2 separate regions of the Homo sapiens genome follow, and region 2 is linked to region 1. The links come from fine-mapping of genetic effects on gene expression. A gene starts in region 1. The other region holds a variant in brackets. All regions are shown on one strand. Distances are from middle to middle.

Evidence for each region.
Region 2: its variant is fine-mapped to the expression of TMEM121 in spinal cord (GTEx, PIP 0.94).

The regions. Positions count from the first base shown.
Region 1 is chr14:105,523,488-105,531,799 of GRCh38, forward strand. TMEM121 (transmembrane protein 121) reads left to right here and starts at 3,096. Exons shown (of 2, transcript NM_025268.4): 1 at 3,096-3,166; 2 at 5,235-6,711. The coding sequence starts at 5,348. The coding sequence ends at 6,307. RefSeq lists a silencer at 4,754-4,963.
Region 2 is chr14:105,495,677-105,503,988 of GRCh38, forward strand. It overlaps TEDC1 (tubulin epsilon and delta complex 1), which reads left to right. Exons shown (of 9, transcript NM_001367178.1): 6 at 204-410; 7 at 1,681-1,767; 8 at 2,122-2,301; 9 at 2,941-3,572. The coding sequence ends at 3,270. Among named protein-coding and RNA genes, the nearest start is that of TEDC1, 8.6 kb to the left of the region's middle. RefSeq lists a silencer at 3,136-3,430. The variant A/T (reference allele first, on the strand shown) is at 3,816.

The DNA of each region.
Region 1 (8,312 bases):
TCATTGCTAATATATAGAAACAGGACTGAGTTCTGTGTTTTCATCCTGCAACCTTGCAAAACTCACTTATTAGTATTCTGACTTTTTTGTTGGTAAAATTCTTGGGATTTTCGACATAGACTTTTATGTTATTTATGGATAGGGACATCTTTATTTCTTCCTTTCTAATCTGTATGCCTTTTATTTTTCTGGTTTTATTGCATGGGTTAGGACTGCCAGTACACTGTGGAACAGGAGTGAATAGAGTGGACATCTTTACCTTGTTCCTGATCTTAGGGCTCAGCATTTAGTCCTTCATTATTAAGTATCACATTAGATGCAGAGGTTTTTTTTTTTTTTTTTTTTCTTTTTTGGACAGGGTCTTCCTCTGTTGCCCACACTGGAGTGCAGTGGTGCGATCTTAGTTCACTGCAACCTCTGCCTCCCAAGTTCAAGCGATTCTCATGCCTCAGCCTCCTGAGTAGCTGGGATTACAGGTGTGTGTCACTGTACCCTGCTAATGTGTGTGTGTGTGTGTGTGTGTTTTAAGTAGAGATGGTGTTTCGCCATGTTGCCCAGGCTGGCATAGAACTCCTGAGCTCAGGTGATCTGCCTGCCTTGGCCTCCCAAAGTGCTGGGATTACAGGCGTGAGCCACCACATCCGGCCAGATTGTTTTGTATTTTTTGTAGAGACAGGGTTTCACCATGTTTCCCAGGCTGGTCTTGAACTCAAGCTCAAGCAATCCGCCCACTTTGGCCTCCCAAAATGCTGGTATTAGAGGCATGAGCCACAGTGCCTGGCCTAATTTTTTTTTTAATTAAAAATAACAGATATGGAATCTCTCCATGTTGCCCGGGCTGGTCTTGAACTCCTGGCCTCCCAAAATGTTGAGATTGCAGGGGTGAGCCACCATGCCTGGCCTGTTGTTTTTGTTGTTGCTTTTTGTAGATTCCTTTTATGAGATTAAGCATGTTCCCTTTGCTTTCTAGTTTGCTGAGAGTGTTTATCAGGGATGAGTGTTGAATTCCGTCAAATACTTTCTTTGAATTGATTGAGATGATCACATGGTTTTCTTCTTGAGACTAATATGGTGGATCACATCGATTTATTTTCACATGTTGAACCAGCCTTGCCTTTCTGGGATAGCCTCCATTTGGTTGGGGTATTTGTGTGTGTGTGTTTTTAATGCTGCTTGATTCTATTTGCTGATAATTAGTTGAGGGTTTTTGTGTCATGTTGGCATTGGCGGCTGTTGATTGTCTTTTCTCTTGCAGGTTGGATTTCCTGATTCTTCACATGCAGAGTAATTTTAGATTGTCTCCTGCACATTTAGACATTATGTTATGAGACTGGTCTTATTTAAATCCCATTGAGAATGTTGGCATTTTGTTTTATCATGCAATCAACCTAGTTGGTTTCAGGCCACAAGTTCAAATAGGCTCCTGTGGGTCCTGCCTTCCATGTCGGTTTTGTTTTCAAAGCCTTTGCAGTGGGACTCAGATCTGTCCTTCGTATGCACTGCCCAGTGGCCAGTGTGGGACGTGGGCAGTGGGCTGTCCTTTTGTTCAGTTCTCAGCCTTTGGGATGTGAATGAGGGTTTAGACTTGTACATCATGTATGGCTTGCACAACTTCCTGGGGTTGCTTTTTTTTTTTTTTTTTTTTTGAGACAGAGTCTCACTCTGTTGCCCAGGCTGGAGTGCAGTGGCAAGATCTCGGCTCACTGCAACCTCCATCTCCCGGACTCAAGCAATTCTCCTGCTTCAGCCTCCCGAGTAGCTGGGATTACAGGTGTGTGCCACCACGCCCGGCTAATTTTTATATTTTTAGTAGAGATGGGGGTTTCACCATGTTGGCCAGGCTGGTCTCGAACTCCCGACCTCAGGTAATCCGCCCACATCGGCCTCCCAAAGTGCTGGAATTACAGGTGTGAGCCACCACGCCCAGCCCATGGATTGCTTTCTACTGCTTCTCCCTGCCCACCATCTCTCCAGCGACAGGGGACCACATCTCCTGGGGCTGGAAAGGAAGGCTCTTCTGCCTCAGCGTTTTAGGTGCTTGTAAACCCTATGCCTTGGTCATGGCTTTGGTGGGATACCTAGGGGCTGGGGCATCAGAGAATGGAGAAGAGTAAAAAAACAACCACTACCAAAAAACCCCATCCTCCCAAACCCTAACATCCCCCCGGGCATTCTCCTGCACCCTGGGAGCATTAGGCGACCTTTTTCTTTCCTCCCCTTGTGCCAGGACTAGAGAACTTCTGGAGCTCTCTGTCCTCTTCTGGCTTTCAGGCCGTGTTGAGTCCAGGCCCGGGGATACGGGAAGAGAATCTGGAAGTTCACTACCAGTTGGGTGGTGCCTCAAATTCTGGTCTTTCCACCAAATCTGGTGTCCCTTTACCTCTCTGACCCTCAGTCTCCTCCTATGTCAGAGGGAAGTCACAGCAGTTCTGGGAAGGAGGGCAGGCAGGCAGAAGGTGCCCTCGGGTTCTTCTCTGGCTCACACGGGATGGACAGGATGTGGGGGGAGGGGCTTAGTGCCACCTCAGTGACAAAATGAAGCCCAAGTCCCCAAACCCTAGCTTGCCTCCTGGACGGGCTGGAGAAGAAGGTGGGGGCCGCTCATCATTCCTTTCCTCTGCCCTGAGAAGAAACCTGGGAAGGCTGGGTTTCTCCCCAAAGAGGACAGAGGGTGGCGCGGAGGGCCCCGGCGGCCAGGCCAGCCCCGCGCCTACATCCCTGTCAGCTCCTGGGCCGGTGGGCGCCTGTCCGGCTGAGTGGGGTCGCTCTAGGGGGCGGCAGCGGAGTTTCAGGGCGCGGGGGGCACTGGGCGGGACCCTGGGATTCTGGGCGGTGGGTGAGGAGGGTGGAGACGGGACTCCGCGCCTGGGGGTGCGCGAGGGCGCCCCGCTCCCCAGAGCCACCAGTCCTGCGCGCCGCCGCGCGGTGCTGTCGCCGTGGCAACCGGCGCTGCGGAGGGGGCGGGGCACCGGCACCCCCGCGCTCCCAGGTCCCCAGGTCCGGCGGGGCTCGCGGGCCGAGGGGCGCGGGGCGGGGCCTCTGGGTCGGGGGCGGTGCCGCGCGGGCGGGGGAGGGGCGCGGCGGGAGGAGCCGGCGCGGCCCCGGCAGTGGCGGCAGAGGCTGGGCGGGCGGGCCCGGGAGCGGCGCAGCATCTGCGGGCGGCGGGGTAGGCGCGGGCGCGGGCGGGACTGGCTGGGTGCGCGGCTGCGTCCGCGGAGGGGGCGGCGGGCCTGGGCGACCCTGCACCTCTGGGCCGTGGGGACTGTGGGGTGGGGCGGGGGCCGATGCGGCAGGGGTGAGGCCTGGGGCCGGCGGGGTGACGGGGACCCGGCCCTGCGTGGGGAAGCCTCGGGGGGACAAGCAGAGACGCAGCCTGCTGGGAGCGGCCCAAGCTCTGCACCGGCCCGCGGCGGGAGCACAGCAGCCCCCTCCCGCCCCTCCTCCCGGGGGCTCCGAGGGGTGGTTATGGGGCGAGGGTCCTTGCGGGGCCCGGGCAGTGAAGGGCCTGGAGGCCCCAGAGTCTGTGCCAGGTCTGAGCCGCGGGGCGTGGGGGGAGGAGGGGCCTCGGCCGGGGCCCAGGAGACCCAGGACAGGTGGGCCTGGGGCCAGGTCCCTACGGAGAGGTGGCCGGGCCGGGCTCTGGCTTGCCGGGGTAGGGGCTCCGCTAGGGGCTGGAGTCCGTCCCTTCGCCAGCGCAGAGCCCCTCGGCCCGCATCTGCCAAGTGACTGAGGATCGAGCGACAGCGTAGTGGGGCGGAGGGGCTGGAGGCACGGCCGGAAAGGGTGAGCGGCGCCGTGGCTCCCCCGCTATTTATTTGGCCCCGCCACGCGCGGAGAGGGAGGAAATTCTCAGGCTGCGGCTGCAGCTAGGGGAGGCCCAGGTGGGCCTGGAATGGGCCCAGAGAGGGCTTCCTGGGTCAGACGTGTAGATCCAGTGGACGTGAAAACCGGGTGAGTGTCCCGGTGGGACCCAGAGCGCGGGGAGGCTTGGAGGCAGGGGCATGGGCTGAGGACCCTCAAGGCACCCTCCTCGCGACCTGTCAGAGCTCCGAGGGGTGGGGGTGTCCTGTGTGTGGCTGTGGGGATCCTGGGCGGCGGGTGCTGGGTGGGGGCAGGGGTGGGAGTGCAGAGTTCAACGCTTTCCCGGATCGGTGGGGCCTGCGGTGTCACCAGGGCAGTCCGAGCGCCCGACTGTCACGGGGACATTAAATTTTATGCCTTTGTCTAGACACGGCAGTAAACGGAGCCCCAGGCCTGGGGCTGTGGAGGGGGTGAGGGGCTGGCTGGGAGTAAGCCTGTCAGTGACTTTGGGGTGGGTGCGGGTGTGCGGGCCTCCATTGTCACCCAGGTGTGCACAGGCCCAGGTGCGGGGACTCCGACAGCACGGCCATGAGGACCAGTGCCAGGTGTGTGACAGAGGTGCAGGGGCCTGTGGAAGCCCGACGGGCCTTGGTGGACGGGCTTCCCGAGATTCGAGGGCAGCCACAGGCATCGCCCTGGCGCAGAGGAGCAAAGCAGGGTGGCTCTGCCGGGGCAGAGGGTGGGGGACAACACCTCGCCAAGGCAATGCGGAGCCATGGGGAGCAGGGCAGGCAGTGGCCACGCGCCCAGGATGGTGGACAGGAGGGGAGACCGAGCCTGCCCGTGCAGGGAGGAGGGGCGTGGGGGCTGCCGGGCAGGGGCGGGGAGGCTCGGAGAGGCTTGTGGGACGGATGCATCGGGACCTGGGTGGCTCTCGGTCCGGGATCAGAAAGCCTGGGAGGGCCGAGGCCTCCTTGGGTACTCCAAGAGCGGAGGGGCAGGCCCGCCTCCCTGCCCAGTGCGGCGGCGGGGAGAGGGTATTCCCGGAACTCCGCGGAAACGGCCTGAGGCCAGCAGCGCGGGCGTGGGGTCCGGGCCGCCGGAGCCAGGAGGGAGGGCGGCGCGGGCCCAGCAGTGACAAACCCCCCCGGGCTCCGGGAACGAGCTCGGCGGGCAGAAAACGCGTCCGTTCCGTTTCCTTCCTGGCGGCGGGAACGAGGCCCGGGTGCTCTGGCGAGGCAGCAGCGCCCTCTGGAGGCCTCGCTGTGGTTCGCGGCCGCCGGTTCGCGCATGGGCGCAGGCGTGCGCGATGCCTCGGGGCCCCGGCGCGGAGACCGCGCCTGGTGGGAAGCACGCGGGGTGCGGGGGGCGGGGGGTGTTGGGGGAGGCCGCTCCAGCCCGCACCCTGATCTTGTCTCCTCCGGTCTCCCCAGGTTTCGAGCTCGCCGGGCCGTGTCGCGCCATGCCCGCTGGCTGAGCGCCGCAGGGCCTCGTCCCGCCAGGCGTGGGGGCCGCGCGCGCCCAGGCCGGGGCCCGGCGGCCGACCATGGTGCTGCCGCCCCCGGACCGGCGCCACGTGTGCCTGACCACGCTGGTGATCATGGGCAGCATGGCCGTCATGGACGCGTACCTGGTGGAGCAGAACCAGGGCCCGCGCAAGATCGGCGTGTGCATCATCGTGCTGGTGGGCGACGTGTGCTTCCTGCTGGTGCTGCGCTACGTGGCCGTGTGGGTGGGCGCCGAGGTGCGCACGGCCAAGCGCGGCTACGCCATGATCCTGTGGTTCCTTTACATCTTCGTGCTGGAGATCAAGCTCTACTTCATCTTCCAGAACTACAAGGCGGCGCGGCGCGGCGCGGCGGACCCCGTGGCGCGCAAGGCGCTGACGCTGCTGCTGTCTGTGTGTGTGCCCGGCCTGTTCCTGCTGCTCGTGGCGCTGGACCGCATGGAGTACGTGCGCACCTTCCGCAAGCGCGAGGACCTGCGCGGCCGCCTGTTTTGGGTGGCGCTGGACCTGCTGGACCTGCTGGACATGCAGGCCAGCCTGTGGGAGCCGCCGCGCTCCGGGCTGCCGCTGTGGGCCGAGGGCCTCACCTTCTTCTACTGCTACATGCTGCTGCTGGTGCTGCCGTGCGTGGCGCTCAGCGAGGTCAGCATGCAGGGCGAGCACATAGCGCCGCAGAAGATGATGCTGTACCCGGTGCTCAGCCTCGCCACCGTCAATGTGGTGGCCGTGCTGGCGCGCGCCGCCAACATGGCGCTGTTCCGGGACAGCCGTGTCTCGGCCATCTTCGTCGGCAAAAACGTGGTGGCGCTCGCCACCAAGGCCTGCACCTTCCTGGAGTACCGCCGCCAGGTGCGCGACTTCCCGCCGCCTGCGCTATCACTGGAGCTGCAGCCGCCACCCCCGCAGCGCAACTCGGTGCCGCCGCCGCCGCCGCCGCTGCACGGCCCGCCTGGGCGCCCCCACATGTCCTCGCCCACGCGTGACCCCCTGGACACGTGACAGGGCCCGCGCGGCCCCCGACACGCCCCTGGGGCGCAGAGACACCGGGTTGGCTTGGGGCGCGCGGTTTGCATGGGATGGGGTGGGGGCGGGCTCCCCTAGGGACAGGTGCCTCGAGTGCCCGTGCCTGGGGTCCCGCGGCCGCTTCTTCATCTCAGGAATCTCTCGGACCGCGGATCCTCAGCCCCCGCTCCACCAGCCCGCCCCAGCGCGTGGGTCTGTTTGGGAGGCCTGGGCCGGAGCAGAGCAGAGGTGATCCGGCCCCTGCCTGCTGGGCCGCCCGGGTTGGAAGGGAGGGCAGTGTGGGCGGAGATCTGCTCCTTCGGTGGGGGCCTCTGGCTCAGATTTGGGGCCAAGGAGGCCTCTGTCATTTTAAAGACTCGTGTTTACAGTTTTGTATCCAAGGCCGCACTGCTTTGCCTGTTCCTGTGTCCCTGTGTTTACCAGCCAGGCTGGGAGGCGGGGAGCCAGGAGGGGTGTGTGGAGGGCGGGGGAGATGGTGGCGTCCAAGTGCCGGATGCTGGTGAGGCTGGGCCGCTCCACTTCCTCCGGGGCTCTCAGGAGCTCCTGGGGGCCACTGCCGCTCTGTCCCAGGGACAGCTCCTCCACTCCAGCTTCGGTGTTCCCAATTATCTTCCTGGGATACCTTGACCCCCATCTTCCCCCAGCACCGTAGGTGTCCTGGCCCCTGCTCCCCTCAACCTCAGGCATGACAGTGTCTCCCACATCCCTGGTTTCCTTCTCCCCCACCGTGGAACCTACCTTCCCTGTGGGCTCCTCCAGCCCAGGACAGCCACAGCCAGATGGAATCAGGGTGTTCCCAAGTTGATGTGGCAGCCCCAGGTCGCAGCCCCAGGAGCAGCACGGAGCCTGGCCCCACCTTACCATCCTGGCCTTGCCCCAGCACGGGAGCTGGCAGCCCCTGGCACAGGCAGCACCCGCCCTGAAGCCCATCTGCAAGGGGTCTCTCACCTGCCTTCCACCTGGGACCCTGTACCTGTGATGTGGCCCTGGGTATCCACCTGGCCTGGGAAGGTCCGTAGCATCTGGGGAGGGGCCCTTTATGAGGCTGCTAAAAGAATTGTTTGAGGATGCCCGCTCCATGAGCGGGTGATGGTCACACACATCTCATGTGGCACAGTTCACTGCCTGGGCCTTCGCTTCCCGCATTTCCACGGCCCAAAGGTGGCAAGGTTTAGCCAGCCAGGGCTAAAACCATCGAGGGGAGTGGAGCTGGCTGCTCAAGTGGGGTCCTCCCCAAGTGCATTTCCCAACAACTGCAGCAGTTAAGGGCGTGGCTGGTGGCAGCCCCAGCCGCACCCCGACCCCACACAGTCCTCATACCCCAGCTCCAGGCCACCTGGGGTCTGGCCTTTGAAAGTCGCCTGCCTTCCAGGCAGCTGGCCTCGGGACCACTGTCCTCAGGGTCCCGGGCAGGGGGACTACCTCGCTGTCCAGGTCAGACGTGGCCGGCGCTCTGCCCACCTCTAAAACCGTGCCTTGGCCCCGGCCTCCGATCATATCCCCAGCAGCCCCTCCAAGCGCCGAGCGCCGTGGGTGGGCACGGGGCGCTGGCCTGGGTAGGAGGTCAGAGGCGCCCTGCTCTGGGCTGTGCCCAGGCCACTAATGATCGTGTTGGGAAGTGGAAGGTCTGCAGGATCAAGGGGGCTGGGGGGCCGGGGAGGGGCGGTGATGAGCAGCCGTGGAAAGGCCCCAGGCCTGGCATGGAGAGAGAAGAGGGGCTGTGGGAGTTGCGTGGGCCAGTGGGAGGACCTGGGCCTTCTTGGGAGGGAGTGGTCTGGAGTGGGGGGTAGTGGGTGAGGGGCGAGCTTCATTCTGCCTGTCTGGGCTGGAGCCTGTTTCCTCCCCTGGCTGAAGCCAGTGCCGGCCCCATCCTGCCTTAAGGGTCTCCTGGGTGAAGACGAGCCCACAATCATCTTGGCTCTGGCACCTGCAGCAAATCCCATGGGAACAGACAGGCAGCGTGGCCATGGGTGAATGGAGC
Region 2 (8,312 bases), 28 kb before region 1:
AGCCCAGGCTTCTGGCCCCTGGGACCCCTGGGTTGGGGCAGAGGAGAGGCTGCCCTGGCCCCAGGCTGCTCCTGCCCAGTGCCTCTGTGGGACCACCCTCTGTGGTGGGCTGGGGGGGCCTGGAAGTGAGGCCCCGCCCTCTCCCCGAAGCTGTGTGCGGCACTGGCCAGGTGGACTGGGGCCATGGCTGGCTTCCTTCCAAGGTTTCTGGAGCGGGAGCTGCCCAAAACCTGGACCTGGCCTACCCAAAGTGCCTGCACTCCTTCTGCACTCCTGGGATGGGTCCCAGAACCTTCTGGAATGATCTGTGGCTGGTATGTGAGCAGCCAGGTCTGCTGCCGGGTGACTGGGCAGCACCCTTGGATCCTGGTGGGGCCTCAGCCTGCAGCCTGCTCTCCCCTTTTAGGGCGGTAAGTCGGGGAGGCTGGCAGGGAAGTGGAGACCGCAGGACTTGGGGGTGGGTGGGAGGGGGTGGCGAGGGGGTGTGTTTGCTCCTCCTCTCCTGCCTGCTCCCACCCCTGGCCCTTACCTTCTTGGGAACTGTGGTGATTGCCTTCTGTCAGGTGTGTTGAAGCGGCCGTACCCATGGTGGAGGCCTTTGCTCTTCTTGTGGCGTGCTGGGGTGGGCAGGTGGGCTGCAGCCCCGGCACCAGCCTGCTCCAGCTCCCACACCGCCCACAGACCTCCCTGTCCTCATATTCTCTGACCGCAGGCCTGCCTGCCTCTGCTCTGCTCCGCCCCAGAGGGGCTGGGTTGGACCTGGTGTTCAAGGCCATTCCTATCTGCCCCCCAGCCCACTGCTGGAGCCCCAGGCCCCTGCAGCCTGCTCCACACTCTGGGTTCCCGGGGGAAGCAGGGGTAGAGTGGGGCAGGATTCAGGTGTAGAGGGCCTGTCCCCAGCAGGGGTCCCCTTGCCCCGGGCCCAGGGTCACTGGTACAGATAGCCCATGAGCGAACCTGGGAGGCCTTCCGTGTGTGGGCAGAGCAGCTGCTGTGTCCTGGCCATTCTCCAGCCGCCTGTCTGTGGGCACTGTGGGCAGGTACCTTTGTGCAGGGCCATGGGGCAGGCAGGGCGGGGTCTCCTGGCCCTGCCTGACCCTTCACTTGGGAATGTCAAGTGTGGCTCAGCTCTGCCTTCTCTGCCACCTGGGTCACTAGGCAGACTCCTCACTGCCTTAGGGGGTCCCTGAAGTTACAGGGGATGGGTTTTCCCTCCCCCAGAGCCTGGCTTGCTCCTTCGTTTGGGGCCTCCCCGTCCGCCTGCAGTCCCCGGATACAGCCCGCATTCAGTGAGGGCTGTGGGGCAGAGGTCTAGGCTTGAGAGGCACCTGGACCTGTCCCTGACCTTGTTGGACTGGCAGTGGGGCTGGTGTGGGGGACAGCGGATGTCCTCAGAGCCGGGGGGCAGCTCTTGCCTGGCAGGCAGGGCCTGGCCGTGCACTGGTTGGGGGCTGCCCTGCACTGCAGAAAGGACAGGTGGGCTGTGGCGTCCGCACCACACCAGGGTGCCCTGCTCATCGCTCTGGCCAGAGAACCTGGGCGCAGGCAGGGGAGGGCTGCAGGGGCGGGGCGTGAGCTAGGCGTTGGGCCGGGTGTCGGCGCTGGGTCCAGCTGTCCATCCGACTGTCTGTCCATGGGGTCCCGTGTGAGGTTCTAGGCCAGCTGCCGTTTGCCTTCCAGCTGCTGCGGACTCTGGAGCGTGAGAACCAGCGCCTGGAGGCTGTCCTGGCGTGGCGGCGCTCTGAGCTGGTCTTCTGGCGGTGGATGGTGAGGAAGCCCGCGCATCCCTCTCCCGGCATCCCTTCCCACAGCAGCCCCCAGGTGGGGCATTCGGGATCTTCCTGTTTTCCAGACAGGAAGAGGGGCTTTTAGGGAGGCCACAGACCTAGTGTAGGCTCTTTCTAGGACTTCCACTCGCCTTCTGGGGAGGCTCACTGCTGCCCCCGCCCTCAGCTCCATGGCCTTCTAGAGTGTGGCCTTTGTGCCTCCCTGGACGTCACAGTTGCTGAGATGGTGGCATCCAGCCCGCTGTGGGACCTGGGGGACTACCACTGCCCTCTTTGCCCTCTGTCCCTCTGTCCCCTTGGCTTGGTGCACGCTGTCTCACTTGGGTCTCTGTAGGACACGGTCCTGGGCACCTGTGCCCCGGAGGTGCCTGCTGCAGCCTCACAGCCCACCTTCCTGCCCTGGGTCCCCGAGCGCGGGGGTGGCGAGTTGGACCTGGTAGTGCGGGAGCTGCAGGCACTGGAGGAGGAGCTGCGGGAGGCTGCGGAGCGCAGGCGGGCGGCCTGGGAGGCCAAGGTGAGTGCCAGCCTCGCTCTGGGCACCAGCCCAGCCCCACCTTCGGGGGATGGCTGACCTGAGGGCACTTTGGACTTGCTGAATCCTACAGTTGCATTTGTCAAGCATGGCAGGGGACACACTTAGAGGCACGTACCCTGAGGGAGCGGGAGGGCACCTGGTGAGGAGCCGCAGCTGCTGCGAGACAGCCCCCGCCCCTCCTGCGGGAGGTCTGTTGTCTGATTCTTTGCATGAGGGAGGGAAGCCCGTGCTGTGTGGGCCCTGCTGCTCCCATGCGTCCGCCACACATGCATCACACGGTAGTAGTCACTCCTCCACACCTGCCTGGGACCCGTCTAACCTCCTGGTGGCCACCTGGGCCTCCACCCTAGACTCAGAGCTGCCCGCTTAACCTGCGCAGGTTCATGGCTGTGAACACGGGGCTGTGTTGGCTCCATCTATTTTCTTTTTCTGAAGAGTTTTAACTTAAATTGCAGGCATGATTTTCCCCTTAAAATTTTCAGTAAGCCTCTCTGAAGAGCATGGGCGTTTCCCGCATGCCTGCAGCGCCTGCACCTGAGTCTGGGCTCAGGGAATGCTCAGGGAGCCTGAGGCCAGTGTCCTGGGGGGACAGAGCCATTGCCATTGTGTCCCACGCAGGCTGGAGGCTGTGGACGGGGGCCAGAGTGGAGTGCCGCGCGGCGGGCCTCTCGGGAGGCTGTGGAAAAGGAGCTGGGAGCTCTACAGCAGTGCTGGGAGCGAGACGGTGGCCCGGCCCAGCCCCATGGGCCACACCGGCTGGTGAGACGAGAGGATGGGGCAGCAGGGGACCGGGACCTGCGGGCAGCTGTGGTGATCAGGACGCTGAGGAGCCAGGAGGCCTGCCTGGAGGCGGTGCTACGTCGACTACAGGGACAGTGTCGGCAGGAACTGGCCAGGCTGGTGGGAGCCCGCCCTGGTCTCATCTGGATCCCGCCACCTGGACGCTGAGGGCCTGTCGACGGGCCCTCGTGTGGGAAGCCTGCCCTGGCCCAGCCTGGCTGGGTCTTGGAGGAGCAGATTCCAAGGCCAGGTGGCCGCAGGGACGATGCAGATGCAGAGCCCACGTCACATGCTCGCTCCAGGGGTGGGGCTGGGCTGACTCTGGCCGGATCCCAGGCCTGTGGCTAGCAGCACTGGGGACAGGAATGGCTGGTCCCTTGAGGAGGTCGTGACAGGCTCAGCCTGGTGGTCTGGAGGGGACTCGGAAATAAATTGTAGCAGCTTTCCTGCCGCTGGCCCTCCCCCTGCCACCCTGTCGGGTTTCCCTGTTTGGGGGTGGGAGCGTGGAGGAGCCCCTGGGCAGTGGTGGCCAGTGTAGGGCTGGCCAGGTGCTGGAGGACATGCATACCCCAGCACTGGTGAGTGGCAGGACCACGGGGAGGTGGCACAGGCCTCCCTGGAGCGGGATTATCTCGGCCCCGCCCCCCTTCATTTGGGCTCCCGCTGTGGGCCTGGCCCTGGGCTGTGAGCACAGCTGCCCCCACCTCCGGCCA[A/T]GGCTGTGCCTGGTGGGTGCGCCGGATGGGAGCCCGGGGCTCTGCTCCTTCCCGGGAGGTGGTGCTCCGGGTGGGGAGGCACAGCATGGACAGAGGGGCTTTGTTCCAGAGGCTGCTCAGCAAGCTCAGCTCATCCCTGACAAAGAGCCATCTGTGTCCGGGGGACGTGCCTCAGCCTGGCGGAAGGAGGGTCGGCCTCATGGCACCCCCCCCGCCCCCCACCAGCAGACACAGGTGGCCCTGAGGCCTCCAGCCCTGCCTGCCTTGCCGGGCTCCCCTCTCTTCTGGGGCTGTCGGACTCTGACCTGAGGTGGGCAGACGATGGGGCTTGTGGGGCCACCTCCAGGCTCCTGCCGGCCCTGCCCCGAGGCCACGTCCATTCCCCCTGCCAGAACATGCTCTCACTGGGGCATGTGCCTGAGTGACAGCACACACCTGGGGCTCCAGCTCCAGTCTCAGCCTGTCTGGGCCTCCTTGGTCCCAGGGGTGGACACGCCTAGACCGCCTGCCTTCCCATTCCGGTGCATGGGACCCAGGAGCACCGGCAAGACCTGGCCGTGGCCAGCAAGGCCTCCCTTTCAGGAGCACCTCTCTGACCCTCTCATGCAGCTGGGCCTCCTGTGGGCCACCAGGATTTGTGCAAATGCTCCCTGGCCTGCGCCACCCTCCGGCCCCTCCGCCAGCTCCTCCTAAGGGCTCCTGCCACCTCCACCTGCTGGTTCCAGCTCTGTTCCAGGCCCTCAGACCTCAACCCTCCTCCACCTGCAGCCTCTGAAAGTCCCCCGTGCTCTCAGCAACCCTCGACTGCCGGACAGGGCTCTTCTTGGGCTGGGAGCAAGTCCACTTGAAGCCCTGCTTTTTATAAACTGCCACAGAACCAGGACTCTCACGGGCCTGGGGGACTTGATTTTTACGAGCACAAAAGCAGGCTTATTGTCATGGAGTTGTCACCTCTCGATGTGATGCGTGAATTCAGGGCAGTCCAAGTCCTGGGTGCGCGTGTGCCCCCATGATGCTGGCGGTGGAGAGGGCCTGAGAGGCCAGGGCCTGCGGGAGGGAAGCCGGCAGGGTGCCCTAGTGCTGCCCGTCATGATGGAGCAGGGATGGGACCCTGGCCTTCAGCTCTAGTTGTTATCACACATGCAGTGGCTCGAGTCGCCTGAAGTCACGCCCTCTTGTTCTGTGGGTCGGGGGTTGCCAGTCCACAGGGTTAAAGCTGGATGGGCAGGCAGGGCTGTGTGGCCCCCAGCTCAGAGCAGGCATGGAGGTCCTCACAACACTGCCTCTCTGACACTCTCCTGCCTCCCTCCCCTGCCTTCAGGAGCCCGAGTCATCCTCAAGACCCCCATCCCCTCTGTCCCCATAGACTTCCTGTCTTAAGGCCAGCTGCAGCTTTTCCCTTCTGTCTTGCGACCTGCCCCAGACCCACGGAACAGCCTGGAGGCCCACGGTGTCGGCCTGGCTGGGGCAGTAGGGCCCTGCACCCTGGACGAGCCAGCATCTGTGTAAGGACAGTGCAGTTTGCTTCCCAGGAAGACAGAGGCGAAGATGGCCTCACAGGAAACAGCAGAGGTCACCTGGCGCGTGAGACCAAGTGCGCTTACTGGAAGGTGCAATAAACTTCAACAAAACTAGAAATTTTTTTTTTTTTAAGACAGAGTCTTGCTCTTGTCACCCAGGCTGGAGTACAGTGGCGCAGTTTCGGCTCACTGCAACCTCCGCCTCCCGGGTTCAAGCGATTCTCCTGCCTCAGCCTTCTGAGTAGCTGGGATTACAGCAGTGCGCCACCATGCCCGGCCAATTTTTGTATTTTTAGTAGAGATGGGGTTTCATCGTATTGGTCAGGCTGGTCTTGAACTCCTGACCTCAGGTGATCCACCCGCCTCGGCCTCCCAAAGTGCTGGGATTACAGGCATGAACCACTGTGCCCGGCCAAAACTAATGTTTATTAAGAGGTGGTGCAGCTGGATGCAGTGGCTCATGCCTGTAATCCCAGCGCTTTGGGAGGCCTGGATGGGAGGATTGCATGAGCCTGGGAGATCAAGACCAGCCTGGGCAACATAGGGAGGCCCCACCACTACAAAAAATAAAAAAAGCAGCTGGGTGTAGTGGCATGTGCCTGTAGTCCCAGCTACATAGAAGGGAGGCCGAGACAGGAGGATCGCTTGAGCCTGGAGACCAAGGCTATGAGGCCAAGTGAGCTATGATCTTGTTACTGCACTCCAGCCTGGGCAACAGAGTGAGACCCTATATGAAAAAGAAAAAACGATTAATGAGATGGAAGTGCAGTGTCTCATACGCTTGCCTATTCTGTTCCGGCTGGCTCAGCCTTCCTGGCCTCTGCTTCCCTTTCTGCACTACTTCAGGGCTCCTTCACCTGGTCCTGGCTGACCCTGCCTTGAGGGATGAGGCTGGTTGGGACTCCGGCCAGGTCAGGATCACAACCTCTGGGGCCTGTGGTGGTCGCACCTCCCCCTGGAGCCCAGGGAATGTGTCCTACGGCCTCTGAAGTCCCGCCTTGGTTGGACAGGAGGGTTTCTCTTTTTTTTTTTTTTTTTTTTGAGACAAGATGTTGCTCTGTCACTCAGTGGCACAGTCAGCTCACTGCAGCCTCCATCTTCCAGGATCAAGTCATCCTCCCACCTCAGCCTCCTGAGTGGCTGGGACTGCAGCCTTGATCTTCCGGGATCAAGTCATCCTCCCACCTCAGCCTCCTGAGTGGCTGGGACTGCAGCCTCGATCTTCCGGGATCAACTAATCCTCCCATCTCAGCCTCCTGAGTGGCTGAGACTACAGGCGCGTGCCACCATGCCCAGCTAATTTTTGTATTTTCATTTTTAGTAGACGCAGGGTTTCACCATGCCGCCCAGGCTGGTCCCAAACTCCTGGGCTCAAGTGATCTGCCTGCCTCTACCTCCCAAAGTGCCGGGATTACAGGCGTAGGCCACCGCTCCTGGCAGGAGAGAAGTGTTTCTGAGTGGTTCCTGTTTATCTCATGGGGACCCTGACCGCTCAGTCCACACTGCCCTTGTCTACCCCATGGCCTTGGGTGTGGTTGTGGCTGGTGGCTCTGAAGTCCTGCGCCTGGGCTCAGCCTCCAGCTGTCTGTCCCTGCGTGTGAGCCTGCATTGGCTCTGCAGCCATCCCTGTCCTCAGAGTGGTCGGAGGGTGTCCTGCCCGGCCTCTCGCTGCCCTGCCTGGCTGTGCTGGGCTGGTCCCTCAGTCATTCTACCTGAAGTCACGTGGTGCCCAATATGTGCCATTCTGAGGGGCCCCATGGCCATGTCCCAGAGGGAAGAGCAAACACCATAGAGGAAAGTGCTCACAGCTGGAGGACATGGGTGCCCGCCGGGGCTCAGCCCCAAGGGGGGCACAAGCTGAGAGTAGGCAGGGCCCAGGCTTCTGCCCCCATCCGCTGGTGGGGAGGTTCTGTGGCTCAGAGGAGGTGGGTTTGGAGGACAGCTGGACTAGGTGGGTTCTGGCCCACTGGGGCACAGGATTGGCCGCTGTCTTGGTTGCGGGTGTGATGTAGGGAGCTGTGGTGGCTGGGCCCATGGTGGTTTGAGAACTGGGCAGGCTGGGGTGGGCACTGCTGCTTGGTAGCCCGGCTCTGACCTGCTCACAATCTTGGCATCTTAGTGGGTGTCAGGTGGGCAGTTGGCTGCGTGAACCTGGAATTTGGGGCTGGAGAATGGAATGTGAGAATGCAGGGTGTGGGTGGGCTCAGCCGGGGTGGGAGGCAGGGCAGGGCAGGGCAGGGCCCCAGGGTGCGGTGGGCCCGGGGCTGGTGAGGGGCCCGGGGCTGGTGAGGGGCCTGGGGCTGGTGAGGGGCCTGGGTCTGAGGCCTGAGCCTGGGCCTGCACAGTGGTAGGAAGCACAGGCAGGGCAGAGGGGATGGCTGGCAAGTGGGGGTGCGGTCAAGTTGGGGGTCTTGGTGGCCAAGTAAAGACAGTGCTTCCGGACGGAGGGGCTTATCACCTGTGCTGCTGAGGGACAGGGCCGGGGGCTGAAGATCACGCTTGGAGTGGGGGCTACACACCTGACAGAGGGGGATGAGGGGGGCCACGGAGGAGGACACCAGGGCTGTGCTCTCACCAGGTCTCCAGGGTCTTGCCATAAACTGCAGCGAAGACATAGGATGCTGGCTGCAGAGGTTTGGGCTGCAGCCTCCTAAATGTGGGGCCTGTATCTTTTTAAAATGAGCCTAGGATTTGTTGTAATCAGGGAGGGTAACACACAGACGCAGGAATGACCGTCTTGTAGGAAGAAAGTTCTTTTATCCACAGAGAGTGGGGGCTGCTCCACGCAGCTGGGTGGTCGGGGCACAGGAATGGGCAAGACGTCAGCATCAAAACTACAGAAAAAGACGCGCTTAGTGAGGTGGTACAACAGCTACCACGACCTCAGCTAATAAAAAAATGTGGGCCTTGAAGTGGGGGACCCATGGCTTGTCACGCTGGTGGGAGGCACCGGGCTTGGGGAGGCACTGGGCTGGAG